2 linked regions of the Homo sapiens genome follow. The protein of the gene in region 1 purifies or fractionates together with the protein of each later gene. This does not show direct contact. Each region holds a gene or a part of one and is shown in the gene's direction. Other genes may lie near its edges.

Region 1 (3,655 bases):
GAGTCACATGCATCTCTTCATCTATTCAATACGTATTTTTTGAGCATGGCACACACATGCCAGGCTATTTTAAGAACTACTACAACTATGATAAAGCTGTGAATATGTAGCCATGAACCAAAACAAAGTCTCTGTCCTTGTGGAACATTTGTTCTGTCAGAGAAGACAGTGTGTTGGCTCACATTGTGGTCAGTGCTGTTGAGCAAAATAGGTCAGAGTAAGGGGGATGGAGACTGGTGGGAGGAATGCTGCTTTATCCAGGATGGGCAGGGAGGACTCGATGGTGTCAGCACTGAAGGATGTAAGATCTGCTGCTCTGGGGAGAGGAGCAGCATGGAAGGAGTAGAGTGCAGAGGCCATGAGGAAGGATCAGGCTTGACTCCTTTGAGCAAGGGGGATGGGAGAGTGACGGGAGAAGAGGACAGGCCACATGGCCTGGTGGCCTGTGCTGAGGCCTTGGGCTTTTACTCAAGTGAGATGAGATGCCATTGGCCAGTTTGGGCAGTGATGTGATCAGACTTGTTTCAGCAGGACCATCCTGCTTGCAATGTGGAGAGCAGGCTGTAGGGGGTGCTATAGGAGCACAAGGTTGGAGGCAGGGAAGATGGCAGCACTGGCTGTTGGGCCATTTGAAGAAGCAAGGCCAGGGATGTTGGCAGGGACCAGGCCAGAGTGCCTCCAATGGCTAACTAAGGAGCCTGGACATTGAATTTCTAGGTTAGCTTAGGATTTCTCATCCTCCCATCTGTGAATGTCATAGATCTCTCATTTTGCCTGAGTCTTTTATGCAATGATATTTTATTTGTAATATTTTCCCGGTTTTTGATTGTTTTTTAACAAATGAATTTTTTAAGAGACTTAATTTTTTAAGAGAAACTTTAATTTCCCAGCAAAAGTGAGAGGAAGGTAGAGAGATTTCCCATCTATCCCCTGCCCCTACACACGCATTGCTTCTCCTACTATCAACATCCCCCACCAGACCAGTGCATCTGTTACCATCGGTGAGCCCACATTACACTGACATATCCACATCACCTGAAACCCATAGTTTACATTAGGGTTCATTCTTGGTGTTGCATGATCTGTGGGTTTGGACAAACGTATGAAGACATGTATTCCACCATTATAGTATCATGCAGAGTATTTTCACTGCCCTAAAAGTCCTCTGTGTTCCCTGTACTCATCTTTCCCACCTTGTCTTGCCTGTTTCTGTTAGGTTTAGTCCGAGGCCTAGCAGAGGGAATGGGCAGAAGTTTCCAGTTCCAGGCTTCACCCCAGGCTCGCAGCTTCAAGCAGAGCCTGTCGCTTAGGCTCCCTTGCACCTGGAGTCGAAACCATGGCTCCCATTCACCTGTCTCTTATTTTCCTGTCCTTCCCACTCCTCACTCACCTACTATTCATTTCCATTTTTGGATGAGGATTCTCCTTTATTGCTTTTTAACTAAAAACCTGTTTTAGTTAGCATCTTTATTCTAATTTCTTTAAATGCTATGTCATACTCAGCAAGGACATGCTCATATTAGGGGAAGCACATAAAGTAAGATATCCCTGAGAGAACAGTGCATCTCACACCCATTCCATGGCTTAGGCTTATGCAGGAAGTGCAATATTTGGCCATATCACTTAAGTACATATGCTTATATTATGTATACTTGCATGCATATTACATTTACAAGTAGATGAATTCGTGTAAGTTAAATGGTTCTATTATATGTCTTCACTATATTAAGGTCAGTCACAATTTAATTGAAATAGATCATCCTAGGTGAATCCACCTGGCATAATTATCAGCCCTGTTAAGCACAGACACAGGAGATGCAAAGGAAAGAAGTATTCAGTAGAGCGGTGGTGCTGGGCTGAGTACCTGCTATCAGACGCAGCACTTACCAGTTTGGAAATTGAATGGGGCTCCTAGAAAACATCCTTGTTTCATGTAAATGTTGCTTTTTACCCCTCTTTCTTTGGGCCCCATCAATTTGGAAGTACAGCTTTCAGATTGAAGTATGTGTCAGTTCCTTTGTGTCCAAACAAGATGGCTAAGTAGGTCGTCATGACAGGTAACTACCAGTGCTTTAAAAACTTTAGGATTTCCCCCCACAGTTCTCAATCACTTGGTTCATTGTTCAGCAATATGGCCTAAGGGGGTGATTTCTTCATTGATAAGTGACAGGGCAGGGACACTGGAAAGATCTATTGTCAGAAGGCCTGGATTCAGGTTCAAGGCCTGGTTCTTAGTAATTTTGTGACCAAGCAATCGCTGAGGTGGCTGGGCGTGGTGGCTCGCACCTGTAATCCCAGCACTTTGGGAGGCCAAGGCGGGCAGATCACGAGGTCAGGAGATAGAGACCATCCTGGCTAACACAGTGAAACCTCGTCTCCACTGAAAAATAGAAAAAATTAGCCAGGCCTGGTGGCCGGCGCCTGTAGTCCCAGCTACTTGGGAGGCTGAGGCAGTAGAATGGCGTGAACCCGGGAGGTGGAGCTTGCAGTGAGCCAAGGTCGCGCCACTGCACTGCAGCCTGGGTGACAGAGCAAGACTGGGTCTCAAAAAAAAAAAAAAAAAATCATTTGATAAATAATGGGCTGTGCATGGTGACTCAGGCCTGTAATCCCAGCACTTTGGGAGGCCAAGGTGGGTGGATTACCTGAGGTCAGGAGTTCAAGACCAGCCTGGCCAACATGGTGAAACCCTGTCTTTACTAAAAATACAAAAATTAGCTGGGCGTCTCCAAAAAAAAAAAAAAAGAAAAAGAAAAATCACTGAGCTACTGTATCCTCATAGAGAATAATTACAGTAATGTGTATGTGCGTGTGTTTTGGTAATCTTTTATCTTGGATTTATCAAACCTACAGAAAAGTTGCAAGAACAGTAGAAGGAATGGCTGTATACTCTTCACACTTATTCACCACTTGCTTACCTGTTGTCCCACTTGCTTTGCCATTTTTTCTCTCTCCCTCTGTTTTCCCCTGAAACATTGGAGAGTAACTTTGAGTCCTCATACTCTTCCCCTATAAAATTTCAATGTGTGTTTCCTGAGATCAACAATGTTCTTATATATAACCCAGAATAAATATCTGAGTCAGGAAATTTGACATTGATATTGCCTATTAGCTAATCCTTAGACCAAATTTAAATTCTGTCAATTATTTTGTTGATGTACCTGTGGCTTTTTTTTTTTTTCTGAATCAAGAATCCAATCAATCCAGGACTGTGTGTTGTGTTGCATTTAGTTGTCATGTTTCTTCATGTCCTTCCGTCTACTCCTTTGCCTTCCTTTGCCCTTCTTTTTTTCTCCCACCATCTATCTAACCAGATGAACTTTGTCTTTCTTGATCTTGTTACTTTTTAAAAAATAGGTGAGTTCTTGTGGTTTTTTTTCCTGACATATCCTCATTATTAGATTTGGATTGTATACTTTTGTCAGAAGCAGCCCAGAAAGGATGTGTCCTTGGTCATGTCAGGAGGGACAGGACGTTGTATCAATATGTCTGGTTCCTCATTAAATTTGCAACTACTCTTTTAGCCTTTATTGTTTATTTTCTGACTCTGTTTTTTTTTTCTTTAGCCAACTCACGCCATGACTCTACTTTTGCTTCTATGTTTATTAGTTGGCATTCTGTACTAAGACAGCTTTACCCTTCTTGCCTACTTATT
Region 2 (3,655 bases), on another chromosome or scaffold:
AAGAAAAAAATATCAGTGCAAAATAAGCAAGATCACATGAGACAACTGAAAGGCACAAATACTATCCAGATGTTTTTTGTTATTGCCCATTTATTTTGGCCAGTGAACATTTGAAAGGCCCAGATATGAAGTTCAGGGACCATGCACTTTGTGTCTCTCCCCAGTATTAATGCACTTACATCTATCTGCTTTTCTCTTTTAGTGGAGGAGATAATGCCTGTTGTGTACAGCAAGACAGTGGGTCATTGTGTATTTACAGAAGTGATGTGGATTCCTCCCAGACTCATTAGTGACCAGGGCTGCTGGGCCTGTTTGGGTTTCCTAGACTAGAGAAGAAGACAGGAACCAGGATGGGAAGACGGACATGTTACATTTTAAGCTGGAGCTTCCCCTGCAGTCCACGGAGCACGTTCTCGGTGTGCAGCTCATCCTGACTTTCTCCTATCGATTACACGTGAGTCAGTCCGCTGGGAGGCTGTCCTCTCCCTTGTGTCTTTTTAGTAGACCAGAGTCCTTCTTCTGATTTCTAGAAGACCCGCACTCTAGCGGGCCCTCTTCCCCATGTAGTTTGGGATTTAACTTAGGCCAATGGAATGGTTTTCACTAGTCATATTAACTGACATGGGCTATTAATAGCTCAGAAGGTTCTAGGCAGTGTTTCCTGCATGGCTACGCTAGGTATGTGAGGGCCTCTTAGGTTTCAGCCAAGACAGGTGACTCTTAGCACCCAGAGCCCTTCAGATCTGATGGCGGTTGGTATTGTTGGTCCTTCTAATGATTTCAGAGGATGGCGACCCTCGTGATGCAGAGCATGGCGTTTCTCCAGTCCTCCTTTCCTGTCCCGGGATCCCAGTTATACGTGAACGGAGACCTGAGGCTGCAGCAGAAGCAGCCGCTGAGCTGTGGTGGCCTAGATGCCCGATACAACGTAAGAGCGCTTCTCATTGTCCAGCTCCTTTGTTTCTCTGTGTTACTGTTCATTAAGTTCTTTAAAGAGGGGAATGAAAAGTAGAAATGTCAGGCCAGGCGCAGTGGCTCATACCTGTAATCCCAGCACTTTGGGAGGCGGAGATGTGCGGATGGATCACTTGAGGTCCGGAGTTTGAAACCAGTCTGGCCAACCTGGTGAAACCCTGTCTCTACTAAAAATACAAAAAATTAGCCAGGCGTGTGGTGCGTGCCTGTAATCCTAGCTACTTGGGAGACTGAGGCAGGAGAATTGCTTGAACCCAGGAGGTGGAGGTTACAGTGAGCTGAGATCTCGCCACTGCACTCCAGCCTGGGCAACAGAGCAAGACTCTGTCTCAAAAAAAAAAAAAAAAAAAAAAAAGAAAAAGAAAAGAAAAGTAGAAATATCATTTCTTTGTGGGTGGCACCAAAGAGGGTCTCTGTAGAATTCTTGCCATGAATTTTTTCAAACTACAGAGAAGGTACACGCATAGTTACACCTAGAAGGGAAGAGAAACAAAATCTGTGTTTGTCGAAGAACTAAATTGCTTATTGCTTTTAGGTCCACGTGGGTGCACACACACACATTGTGTCTTCCATACACACGCTTGGTCACACGCAGGATGTACTCCGAAGGACACTGTAAAATGATGATGTAAAATGTTCATGTAAAGTATTTCAGAAATATTACTAGCCATAGTTTACTGAACTCATAACATATGCCACCCCTGAGTGCAGGCGTTTACCTATATCATCTCCTTTAATCATCATGGCAACCTCTGAGCTGCCTGCATTGTCCTTTCCCCGCACTCCAGCCACTTGTCCCATCACTGCCCCCGCTTGCTCCCTTCCAGCCCCCCTGGCCTTTTTGCTGTTCCTCAAACCCAAGAAGCAGCTGCCACCTCAGGGCTTTTGCTTTTGCCATTTCCTCTGCCAGGCATCCATGTGGCTTATCGGACCATGCCATTCAGGTCCCTGTTCAGATATCCCCAAGCCCAGTCCTTCTCTGACCTGCTTCTACAGTAGCAGCCCCTCCTTCCACCATTCCTCAGCCAGACTCTCCCTCCTGCCGCCTGGCCTACTCAGGATATGTGTTTGTGTGTTTATTTGCTGTCTCCCTCAGCCTTGACAGCAGTGGCATCTCAAATACTATCACATCCGTGCCTAGCACACTGCCTGGCAGATGGTAAGCTCACAGAGATACTTGTTTAAATAATGAACTCATTTTGCAGAAGACGTAACTGGGGCTTAAAGTGATTAATTTTCCCAAAGGCTCAAATCTTGAAAGATAACAGAGCCTGTCTGTGTGCAGAACTCATGCATCTAATCACTCATTCCTCACTTTTATTTTATCACAATGGGGACCATAGAAGTTGAGCTGAGGTACTTCTGAAAATGAAAAAGGGATGTTATCGGTTATTACAGCCATAAACCCAGACTTGTAGATATATAGTGGGTTTTACTGTTGCTCTGACTATAATCAATATAAGTTGTAAAGAATAGGAAGCTGCAACATATGAAATGAATATGGCACTTTTTGTTTGAATGTCTATATATCAGATTACATTAACAGCAAGCAATTATTTCCTCCTTTAAGGGATTATATGCTTATGGTTTGCATTTTATCTATATCTCTATATTTAAAAGTGATAAAGAACTTAGCACCCAGAAAAGACCAAGAAAATGACAAAGGAGTTGGAAGTATGGTTTCTTTTTTTTGTCTTTGTGTAGGGGTTTTTATTTGTATTTTATTTTTATTTTTGAGACAGAGTCTTGCTCTGTCACCCAGGCTACAGTGGAGTGGCATGATCTCGGCTCACTGCAACCTCTGTCTCCCAGGCTTAAGAGATCCTCTGATTTCAGCCTCCTGAATAGCTGGGATTACAGCCATATGCCACCACGCCTGGCTAATTTTTGTTTTCTTTGTAGTAGAGATGGGGTTTCACCATGTTGGCCAGACTGGTCTCGAACTCCTGGTCTCAAGTGATCCATCTGCCTGGGCTTCCCAAAGTGTTGGGATTAGAGGCGTGAGCTTCCATGCCTGGCTTTTTATTTTTTTTTATTTTTATTTTTTTTTGAGAGATGAAGTCTTTCTCTGTTTCCTAAACTGGAGTGTAGTGAGTGGCATGATCATCATTGACTACGGCCTTGAACTCATGGCCTCAAGTGGTCCTCCTGCCTCAGCCTCCCAAGTCACTGGGATTGTAGGCATGAGCCACCACACCTGGCGAAAATACGGTCTGTTAAAATAATTTAAGGAATTCTTTCTCCCGCTGAGATAAAGAGGGGTATTTTAAAAATAGCTTTAAAACCTGTAAAACATGGACACTGACCCCTTATTTCCATCCACAGAAAGAAAGACTGAGAGTAAATGGGCTTAAATTGTTGCAAGAGAGTTTATTCATCTTTGAAGAGAAGATTATTGATACTGCAGTAGGCCACCAAGAACAAGAGGGTGCTCTGTGGGACCAGCCTGGGTGGGCAGCAGCCTGTTTTATTCATCTTTGAAGAAAAGATTATTGATACTGCAGTAGGCCACCAAGAACAAGAGGGTGCTCTGTGGGACCAGCCTGGGTGGGCAGAAGGGTAGAAGGAAAAGGGGAGGAGTCTCCCAGGTGCTCACACCACATCCTCCTCCCGTGTCCCAGATATCCGTGATCAACGGGACCAGCCCCTTTGCCTATGACTACGACCTCACCCATATTGT

Evidence for each region. The genes of interacting proteins can lie anywhere in the genome.
Region 2: the proteins of TIGAR (region 1) and TMEM231 purify together in Homo sapiens (co-immunoprecipitation; one large-scale study listed by IntAct). This does not show direct contact.

What each region holds. Positions count from the first base shown.
Region 1 is NC_000012.12:4,355,558-4,359,212, forward strand, and holds part of TIGAR (fructose-2,6-bisphosphatase TIGAR), read left to right. Parts: 3' UTR 1-3,655.
Region 2 is NC_000016.10:75,542,625-75,546,279, reverse strand, and holds part of TMEM231 (transmembrane protein 231), read left to right. Parts: intron 1-202; exon of another isoform or gene 203-325; coding exon 326-454; intron 455-784; coding exon 785-928; intron 929-3,596; coding exon 3,597-3,655. UniProt on the Homo sapiens protein: Transmembrane component of the tectonic-like complex, a complex localized at the transition zone of primary cilia and acting as a barrier that prevents diffusion of transmembrane proteins between the cilia and plasma membranes.